Linked DNA regions of Homo sapiens. The protein of the gene in region 1 interacts with the protein of each later gene in a pairwise test. Each region holds a gene or a part of one and is shown in the gene's direction. Other genes may lie near its edges. The genes, in order: SPTBN4, NEK2 and PFDN1.

What was found.
Region 2: the proteins of SPTBN4 (region 1) and NEK2 interact in a two-hybrid assay, tested with the Homo sapiens proteins (one large-scale study listed by BioGRID and IntAct).
Region 3: the proteins of SPTBN4 (region 1) and PFDN1 interact in a two-hybrid assay, tested with the Homo sapiens proteins (one large-scale study listed by BioGRID and IntAct).

The regions. Positions count from the first base shown.
Region 1 is NC_000019.10:40,469,878-40,473,531, forward strand, and holds part of SPTBN4 (spectrin beta chain, non-erythrocytic 4), read left to right. Parts: intron 1-2,729; 5' UTR 2,730-2,744; coding exon 2,745-2,913; intron 2,914-3,654.
Region 2 is NC_000001.11:211,665,475-211,669,128, reverse strand, and holds part of NEK2 (serine/threonine-protein kinase Nek2), read left to right. Parts: coding exon 1-16; intron 17-1,897; coding exon 1,898-2,023; coding exon of another isoform or gene 2,024-2,067; exon of another isoform or gene 2,068-2,712; intron 2,713-3,654. UniProt on the Homo sapiens protein: Protein kinase which is involved in the control of centrosome separation and bipolar spindle formation in mitotic cells and chromatin condensation in meiotic cells.
Region 3 is NC_000005.10:140,278,970-140,282,623, reverse strand, and holds part of PFDN1 (prefoldin subunit 1), read left to right. Parts: intron 1-1,090; coding exon 1,091-1,175; intron 1,176-3,654. UniProt on the Homo sapiens protein: Binds specifically to cytosolic chaperonin (c-CPN) and transfers target proteins to it. Binds to nascent polypeptide chain and promotes folding in an environment in which there are many competing pathways for nonnative proteins.

The DNA.
Region 1 (3,654 bases):
AGGTGATTCACCCACCTTGGCCTCCCAAAGTGCTGGGATTACAGGTGTGAGCCACTGTGCCCGGCCAATTTCTTCTTTTTTTAAATAATTTTTTGTTTTCTATTTTTTTATTTTCATTTAATTTAATTTTATTTTTTCTGAGATGGGGTCTCACTCTGTCGCCCAGGCTGGAGTGCAGTGGCACGATCTCAGCTCACTGCAACCTCTGTCTCCCAGGTTCAAGCGATTCTACTGTCTCAGTCTCCTGAGTAGCTGGGATTATAGGTGCACAATGCCATGCCTGGCTAATTTCTTGTATTTTAGTAGAGATGGAGTTTCACCAAGTTGCCCAGACTGGTCTCGAACCCCTGAGCTCAGGCAATCCACCCGCCTTGGCCTCCCTAAGTGCCAGGATAACAGGCATGAGCCACCGTGCCCGGCCTATTTTTATTTTTTTATTTTTGTTTGAGATGGTGTCTCGCCCTGTTGCCCAAGCCGGAGTGCAGTGGTGCCATCTTGGCTCACTGCAACCTCTGCCTTCCCAGGTTCAAGCGATTCTCCTGCCTCAGCCTCCTGAGTAGCTGGGATTGCAGGCATGCACTACCATGCCCAGCTCATTTTTGTATTTTTAGTAGAGATGGGGTTTCACCATGTTGGCCGGGCTGGTCTTGAACTCCTGACCTCAAGCGATCTGCCTGCCTTGGCCTCCCAAAGTGCTGGGATTACAGGTATGAGCCACTGTGCCTGCCCCCTCCACTTTAAATTTTTCTTCTTCTTCTTCTTCTTTTTTTCTTGAGAATGAGTCTTACTCTGTCGCCCAGGATAGAGTGCAGTGGCACAATCTCAGCTCATTGCAACCTGCGCCTCCTGGGTTCAAACGATTCTCCTCCCTCAGCCTCCTGAGTAGCTGAGATTACAGTAGCCCGAAACCACACCCAGCTAATTTTTGTATTTTCAGTAGAGACCGGGTTTCACCATGTTGGCCAGGCTGGTCTCGAACTCCTCACCTCGTGATCCGCCTGCCTCGGCCTCCCAAAGTGCTGGGATTACAGGCAGGACCCACTGTGCCCAGCCCCATTAATGCAAATATTCTATCACCTTTTTTTTTTTTGAGACGGAGTCTTGCTCTGTCTCCCAGGCTGGAGTGCATTGGCATGATCTCGGCTCACTGCAGCCTCCACCTCCCAGGTTCAAGTGATTCTCCTGCCTCAGCCTCCTGAATACCTGGGATTACAAGTGTGTGACACCACGCCCAGCTAATTTTTGTATTTTTAGAGACAGGGTTTCACCATGTTGGCCAGGCCGGTCTTGAACTCCTGACCTCAGGTGATCTACCCATCTCAGCCCCAAAAAGTGCTGGGATTACATGCATGAGCCACCGCGCCTGGCCCTATCATCTATGTTTGAATCCTAGATACTAACTGGCTGTGTAACCTTGGAAAAATAGATCAACTCCTCTGTGCCTCAGTTTCCTCCTCTGTAAAATAGGTGTAATAATAGCCAACTGTTAGGGAATTAAATTTGTGGAAATAATAAGAGAAGGTACATGAAGTACTGACCACAGTGCAAGTGTTCAATATGTTCATTATTGTTATTACTGCATTACAGAACTCTATTGTTCTAATAATAACAGTGACAATTTGCTGAGCCCTTAATATGTGCCAGGGGCTAAGCCATGTGTTTTATCACATCCTGTGAAGTGGTGAGGGTGAACATTATTATTATTATTATTTAGAAATAGGGTATCGCCATATTGCCCAGTTTGGAGTGCAGTGTCACTATTATAGATCACTGTAGCCTTGGCTTCTTGGGCTCAAGCCATCTTCCTGCCTCAGCCTCCTAAATAGCTGGGACTACGGGTGGCAACCACCACATTTGGCTAATTTTTAAATTTTTTTAAAAGACAGTTTCTGGCTCTGCTGCCCAGGCTGGAGTGCAGTGGCGCTATCTTGGCTCACTGCAACCTCCACTTCACAGGCTCAAGCCATCCTCACACCTCAGCCTCCTGAGTAGCTGGGATTACAGGCACGTTGCCACCACATCCAGCTATTTTTTTTTTTTTTTTTTTTTTGAGACAGAGTTTCGCTTTTGTTGCCCAGGCTGGAGTGCAATGGCATGATCTTGGCTCACCACAACCTCCGCCTCCCGGGTTCAAGCGCTTCTCCTGCCTCAGCCTCCCGAGTAGCTGGGATTACAGGCATACTCCACCTCGCCTGGAGAATTTTGTATTTTTATTAGAGACAGCGTTCTCCATGTTGGTCAGGCTGATCTCGAACTCCCAACCTCAGGTGATCCGCCCGCCTCTGCCTCCCAAAGTGCTGGGATTATAGGTGTGAGCCACCGTGCCTGGCCAATTTTTGTATTTTTTTGTAGAGACAGGGTTTCACCATGTTGCCCAGGCTTGTCTCGAACTCCTGGGCTCAAGCAATCCGCCCTCCTCAGCCTCTCAAAGTGTTGGGATTATAGGCCTGAGCCACTGCGCCTGGCTTATTTTTATTTTTATAGAGATGAAATCTTGCTATGTTGCCCAGGCTGGTCTCCAACCCCTGGGCTCAAGCGATTCTCCTGCCTCTGCCTCCCAAAGTGCTGGGATTACAGGCATGAGCCACTGTGCCTAGGCCTTATCATTGTTATTATGTCCACTTTAAAGACAGAGAAATTGAGGACAAGAGAGGGGACAGGACTCAAAGCCAGTCACTGTTAGAAATGAGACTTGATCCTAGACCTAACCTACCTCTCCCTATGTCCAGGCCTCACCTTCCCCGATGGCGCAGGTACCAGGGGAAGTGGACAACATGGAGGGCCTGCCTGCTCCTAACAACAACCCTGCTGCCCGCTGGGAGAGTCCGGATCGGGGCTGGGAGCGGGAGCAGCCGGCTGCGTCCACCGCAGCGGCCTCGCTCTTTGAGTGCTCCCGGATCAAGGCCTTGGCAGGTACCTGGAGGAGGGCTGGGGTGGGATGAGGAGGAGGGGGAAGGGGGAAGGGTGCCCGAGAACCTTGGTGGCTGGGAGGGTGGGAAAAGAGACCAGCACTGTCCAATAGAACTTTCCATGATGGTGGAAATAGTCTATATCCATAATGTACCATATAATAATCACTAGTCTCTGTGACTTTTGAATGCTAGAAATGTGGCCAGTGCTATGTGACAGCCTTTGAGTTTTAAATTTTATTTAGTTTTAATTAAATTTATTTATATATATATTTTTTGAGACAGAGTCTTATTCTGTTGCCCCGGCTGGGGTGTAGTGGTGAGATCTTGGGTCACTGCAATCTCCACCTCACCGGCTCAAGCCATCCTCCTACCTCAGCCCCCTGACTAGCTGGGACTACAGGTGCCCGCCACCACACCCGGCTAATTCTTTTTGTATTTTTAGTAGACACCGGGTTTCACTGTGTTTGCCAGGCTGGTTTTGAACTTCTGATCTTAAGTGATCCACTTGCTTTGGCTTCCCAAAGTGCTGGGATTACAGGCATGAGCCACTGCACCTGGCCTGGTGTTTTTTTTTTTTTTTTTTTTGAGACGGAGTTTCGCTCTTGTTGCCCAGGCTGGAGTGCAGTGGCGCGATCTCGGCTCACCGCAACCTCCACCTCCCAGGTTCAAGCGATTCTCCTGCCTCAGCCTCCCTAGTAGCTGGGATTACAGGCATGTGCCACCACGCCCAGCTAATTTTGTA
Region 2 (3,654 bases), on another chromosome or scaffold:
GAAGAAAGATTGGAGCGTAAGTCTGAATGGGGGTCAAAGCAAAGGAGAACTACCAAGTGGGTTATTTTGATGTGTCTGAATATCTCTTTGAGCAGAATATTTTATACATACAGATCTTATTAGAAGCTTTTGAAAAATACTTGAGAAACCAAAATATGTATTTTAGACTTTTTAATAATCAGGCTTGCTGGCACCTTCATGTTGGACATCTTTCTCTGAGATCAGTTGCTAGTTATATATTATTGGGCCTTAACTGTGATGGCCCTAATACGATAGCCTTGTATTTTACTCTAGAGTTACTTTTTTCTTTTTCGTCTCTACTGTGAATACCCTAATGTTTTCCCACTGTAAAGGAAGGTCTTAAAATTGCTGCTTTCCATAATAAAAAACCATGACTTTTGTCTTTTGAAATGGCCACTCCAACAGAATTCCAGGTCTAAAACCCTACAGTATGTAGATGAGATATGTTCAGGCAATTCTTTTCTTTTTTTTTAACTTTTTATTTTTGAAAATGAGATGGGGTCTCACTATATTACCCAGGCTGGTCTTGAACTCCTGAGCTCAAGTGATCCTCCCATCTTACCTCCCAAAGTGCTGGGATTATAGGTGTGACCTACCACACCTGGTCTGTTCAGGCAGTTCAATAGAGAATCTAGATACAAGATATTTTAAGTCTATAAATAATACTCTGGTGGGTATTAACATTGACTTATGAGTATTAACTGATTAGATGCTAATTTAGTTTTGATATTGAAAGTGTGTCTACTCCACCAAGATGAGAGCTACTCGCAAGCATTTAGGGTTATGCAAGGTAGCTACAGAGTGAGGTTCTTCATTTTAACATCAGGAGACGAGAGATGGGGTCGTATTTGTGACCTGTCACCCTCATGACTCACCTGATTTTACTTCTGCAGCTTTATGCCCAATCCAGGCTTTAAATAATGAAATATTGTATAGTCCTGTGAGATATGCTTACTGTATAGGTACAACCTATACTTACTTGGAAACCTCTGTAAAAAATAAGAAAGCTTTTTCTTATAACTTTCCCCAGTGTTTCATAATTTCTTTTCTTTTTTTTTTTTGAGATGGAATTTCACTCTTGTTGCCCAGGCTGAAGTGCAGTGGCACCATCTTGGTTCATTGCAACCTCTACCTCCCGGGTTCAAGCAATTCTCCTGCCTCAGCCTCCTGAGTAGCTGGGATTACAGGCGCCTGCCACCATGCCTGGCTAATTTTTGATTTTTTAGTAGAGATGGGGTTTTGCCATGTTGACCTGGCTGGTCTTGAACTCCTGACATCAGGTGATCCACCTGCCTCGGCCTCCCAAAGTGTTGGGATTACAGGCGTGAGCCACTGTGACCAGCCATAATTTCATATAGCAACTGAAATCTGAATACTTTCTGAATTTGGGGCCATGAATAAATAGTAACATTTGTTATTAATACTAATCCTATGAACTACCACCTAACTGAATTGTGTTTTTTTTCTTTTGTTTGGGTGTGGTCATTCAACCAGAAGAAGGAGATTTTTGTACTGTGAGGCCAGATCATGCCCTGAAAATTAGCTGTTGCTTATCTTCAGTGAAGAGCAGAGATAGCTTTAGTTTTTTGTTTTCCCAAATGAGTTACTCCCACAAAAGATGACCAAAGGTTGAAGCTAACTTTGTATTTGTTTAAACAAGTCCTTTCAAGAAAATCTAAGATAACATACAGCCTACTAAAACACTCAATTAAAAACTAACATAATCAGGTTGACTGAGGCATAGTGAGAATCCTTTCCCCAAACATTGCTTATCAGTATCAGGCATGCTAGTAGTGATAAGATTGCCAAATGTAAATTGTTTTTTAGTCAAGGTCAGTTGTTAATTTTTTTTTCTTTGTCCATTCTCTTTTTAAAGAGAAAGAACAGGAGCTTTGTGTTCGTGAGAGACTAGCAGAGGACAAACTGGCTAGAGCAGAAAATCTGTTGAAGAACTACAGCTTGCTAAAGGAACGGAAGTTCCTGTCTCTGGCAAGTAATCCAGGTATGAGAATCAACTTGGTCAACAGAAGCTGGTGCTACAAATGAAGAAATGTGCACCAGTGTTGCTCCCAAAGTGGCTTAGGTAGCCCTTTTCATTTACAAATCTCAAATTTTAAGATGGATTTCATTGAATATATGCATTTCAATGGAAACAAAATTCTGTTATAGCAATGATTTATTTCCTGGGTTCATAGACCTGAGGCAATGAGTCATAGAATTTCATGTTTGATTTTCTTTACCTTATCAAACTACATGTTTAGTAATTGATACTTATTTTTATTATCATTATTTATTTTTTTATTTTTTTTGAGATGGAGTCTCACTCTGTAGCCCAGGCTGGAGTGCAGTGGCACAATCTCGGCTCACTGCAAGCTCTGCCTCCCGGGTTCACGCCATTCTTCTGCCTCAGCCTCCCAAGTAGCTGGGACTACAGACACCCGCCACCAAGCCCGGCTAATTTTTGTATTTTTAGTAGAGACGGGGTTTCACCGTGTTAGCCAGGATGGTCTCGATTTCCTGACCTCGTGATCCGCCTGCCTCGGCCTCCCAATGTGCTGGGATTACAGGCATGAGACACCGTGCCCAGCCGATACTTATTTTTAAAAATTAGGGCATTTACAAAACTATTGTATGTTTCAGATTTCAGAGAGATAAACTGCATTTCAAGTAAAAATAAACATTTTAATATTGCCATGCCTCATTTTTCATAGAAAGCATGGCTTAAAAGGCATGATAAGCCACCTGCAGAATAGGCTGTCACGTTTGGATCTTTGCTAACACCCTTTCAAGTTGAAAGACATATTTGTTGAAATTTGATTGTTTAATATCTACATATGTTCTCTGCATTTCCTTCTTTATTTAAAGTCTGGTATATAGATATTCAGCTTTCTCAGGGCCCTGCCTTTGTGTGGCATTGTCCCTTCACTCTGCCGCACTGAGATGTGGTTATCGTATATACCAGTGAACCATTGTCTAACATTCTCCATTTTATAGAAACCCTCAATCTAATTTAATCGACTCTTTAAGATTATGTAAAATGCAAACTGTGAAACATCTTTTTGCTTGATTTATGACACAAACTAACTGTTAAAAGTTGTTGGTTTCAAAAATCGAGCATCTGAATTTTCAATAAAATTTAGAGTTTTTATAACTCCCTTATTCCATGTAGGACAGCATATATGAAAGCTATTATTCCCATCTTTAATAAATTGAGATGTAGTGTGATCAATTTAGTGAGCATTGGCAGCATTTTGTAAATGGAACAGACAAAAAACCCTACTTAAGTTAGATTGATGATCACAATAACTTTGTAGTGAATAAGTGATGGAAAGAAATGAAACTACTGATAGAAGTAAATGAAACAAGGATTATATGAAACTTTGGCTTCATCTCTGTTAAAATACCTTCTTTTTTCCCAATATTGCAGTCTACCATTTCAATATTATAAAAATATTTATTCTGGCTTTTCATAGATTCCACACTGTCATCCATAAAGACAAAATAGACTTAAATCATGATTAGGGTGATAAAATGAGGAGAAAATTTTACCTGGATGAATTTCATGCATCAAACCCATTGCAGAGAATTACTTAAGACCCTGTTGGGGATGGCTGTTCGGTTAAAGAGTTTATT
Region 3 (3,654 bases), on another chromosome or scaffold:
GATGTAAAATGGAAAAAGTTGAAAATTTCCACTTGTACATTTTGAGCTTTTCAGAGGTACTATATACACTCTGGAAATAATAATAAAAGATACTAAGGCTTATACAGTGCTTTTTGTTTGAGGAACTCATATAAACACTAATGCATTGATCCTAACACAGTGCTTGATTGTGACTTTAAAAGGTCATGAGTTACTGCTGTTACAAAAAAAAAAAAAAAATGGAGGGGCGCTCCACTTTACAAATATAGTTTAAAAAATATCTAGATAAAAATTGAAACAGATAACTGAAAAAACAAAACTTATAGGGTATTTGTTTGTATGTTGACTTTTCTCTTAGCGTATGATATATTTTTATTCCTTTATTATTTTTTCTTTTACATATGAATCTACTTGAAGCCTGATTTTCTTTTCTTTTTTTTTTTTTTTTTAATGTTTTTAAGACAGGATCTTGCTCTGTTACCCAAGCTGGAGTGCAGTAGCACAATCATGGCTCACTACAGCTTTGATATCTCAGTCTCAATTGATCCTCCCACCTCAGCCTCCCTAGTAGCTGGGACTACAGGCGTGTGCCACTGTGCCTGACTAATATTTTAAATTTATTTTTTGTAGAGATGGGTCTCATCATGTTGCCTGGGCTAGTCTTGAACTCCCAGGCTCAAGCAGTCCTCCTGCCTCGGCCTCTCAGAGTGCTGGGATTACAGGTGTGAGCCACTGTGCCCAACTCCCGCAACCCCCCCGCTTTTTTTTTTAATGAGACAGGGTCTTGCTATGTTGCCCAGACTAGACTCAGACACCTGGGCTCAAACAATCCTCCCACCTCAGCCTCCTGAGTATCTGGGACTGTAGGCCCACACCACTGTTCCCTGCCTGATTCCTATATTAAATAAGAAAGCAGAATCTACTTTTAAGCCTTTATTCCTTCTCAGCCAAGAAGGTTTAAACTTCTGGTGGTTTCCTGAGCTTGACGTATTATGTTAATATGCATTTGTCCTTTTAATTTGCTCAGTTTAATATTTGTAGTATGTAGCTATTGATTTCGATGAATTCAATAGTCATGTGGCTTAATTTTCAACTTTCTTGTGTTTCATAGGTTTATTCTTCAGTCCAAGGAAGCAATTCACAGTCAGCTGTTAGAGAAGCAGAAAATAGCAGAAGAAAAAATTAAAGAACTAGAAGTAAGTTTTTATTGGCAATAGGAGTTAACTTTTGGGAGAAAGTAGTAATCTTATTGTGTCATATTAAATGAAAATGTATGCCTGCCTGCCAAAGTAATGTCATATTATTTTTATTTTCTATAATTACGTTGGAGCCGTGAAGCTGTCATATTCATATTCATAGCGCATATAAGACCAAAACAAAAAAAAAAGAATAGTCTCTTCTTTGGAACTGCAGAGAATTTTGATGAGATGGTTTTAACCTGAATGTATTTTGTTCATTGCCCTTGAATGTGTTTATTCTTTAAAAAAAACAAAACCATAAACAAAATGTAATGTATATTTAAACAACACTTGTGTAGTGGATTGTGGTGGATGGGCAGGAGAGTGGGTAATAATGATAAATTTTAGAGGATCTTGGTATAGGGTCTTTTTTACACATTGTAATTTCTTTAACCTAAATTAGGTTCTATATAAGGACAAAGTAGCAAGCTATAACCAATTAACTATCTGAAGGATGGTGCTCCAATGAGAACAATTTTTTCTTTTTAGCTAGGGAAAAAGATGATAGGTAACAGTAAGCAAATCTTTGGAAATATTACTTTATTATTTTTATTATTATAATTTATTTATACATTAAGACCTTTAGTGAGATATTCTTCTTGGGCTTTGGTGAAAGGCCCATCCTGTGTATAGTAAAAGTTAGACTGGACAAAAAGCTGGTTATTTCTTAGGGACCAAGATTTCCCAACATGTGGGTGGATACATTGACTTCATAGGTCATTTCATCTAATTTCTGTAAGTACTATTTGAGGCAGAGGATCAGAATCTAACTCAGCCCTCTGCTGAATTTGGGAGCTACAACTTGTAGCCTCCTGAGGATTTCTTAGGGGCACTGAATTGGCCTGGCCTGGGAGTATGCAGTATCTTAGGTTACTTAGGCTTATTTTTAACTACTGATAGTTGAAACAAACTTGATAATAGATTTGCAGCTTAGAAAAGTGTATTGTAAAAACAAGACAAAAAAGCAAAAAAACCAAGTAAAGAAAAAACAGCCTGTGATAACCAGATTGTTGTTGTGTCCTATTTTAACATTTTAATCAGCTCAACTGTTCTAAGAGGTTCAGTTTGATATCTGTGTTTTCACTCATAAGAAACAAAAGTATCTTTAAAAACCCAAACAGAATCATTTCATGTAGATAAAACAAAATGCATTTTTGCAACTGTAGGTAAATATATTTAAAATTATCCTAATGAATAATAAGTAGCAAGGTAATATGTATATAATTCTCTTTATGAAAACAAAAAACAAACATTTGTGTATGAATATTGAAGATGATATGTAAGGATATATATTAAATTGTTAATACTGTTTACCCTAAAGAAATTAGATGGGACGTAGGGATAAATGATTTTTTCTTTTTCTTTCTTTCTTTTCTTTTCTTTTCTTTTTTTGTTTTTTTTTTTTTTTTTTGAGACGGAGTTTCGCTCTTGTTGCCCAGGCTGAAGTGCAATGGTGTGATCTCGGCTCACTGCTACCTCCGCCTCCTGGCTTCAAGCGATTCTCCTGTCTCAGCTTCCCAAGTAGCTGGGATTACAGGCATGCGCCACCACGCCCTGCTAATTTTGTGTTTTTAGTAGAGATGGGATTTCTCCTTGTTGGTCAGGCTGGTCTCGAACTCCCGACCTCAGATGATCTGCCTGCCTCGGCCTCCCAAGTGCTGGGAATCATAGGCCACTGCGCCTGGCCTTGATTTTTTTCTTACAATCTCTGTAATAATAAATTATAACAAGTATACATTAACTTTTTTTGTTGTTAACTTTCATGATTAAAAAATTAGCAGAGTGGGCACAGTGGCAAATGCTTGTAGTCCCAGCTACGGGAGGCTGAAGCGGGAGGATTGCCTGAGGCATTCCAGCCTGCGCAACATAACAAGACCTTGTCTCTTTAGGGAAAAAAAAAAACACAAAAACCCCAATTATCAAGGTGAAATTGCCACAGGTGATGATTTTATCAATACCGTACTGCTGAGTTCTGGTGAATATTAAGAAATTTACTTTCTGCAAGTTTCCTTTTGTTGAGTGTCTCAAATACTGGTAGAATGTTTTATCTTTTAGGAAGTTCTTTTTTCTTTTTTAATTTTTCATTTTACATGTTACTTACATTATAAAAGCAATAGAAGTACACCATAAATAAAATATAAAACAAATGATTAAACAATGAAAATATTACTTTGTTTTTCCACCCTCGGTACATCCAAATGTCACCTCTACGGTTTCTGTATCATTCCAAACTTCTATATTTATATCAAGACATTCATACATGCATATATATACACAACCTTTTTTTAAAATAGGAATTATGCTATATATACTGTTTTCCATCATTTGACAGTTTATCTTGCTACTTTAGTAATATAACTCCAGTTTATATACAATTTCTTTTTTTGATTCCCATCATCATGGGCTCCTTACCATGAGCCTTATTTCAGCATTTAAT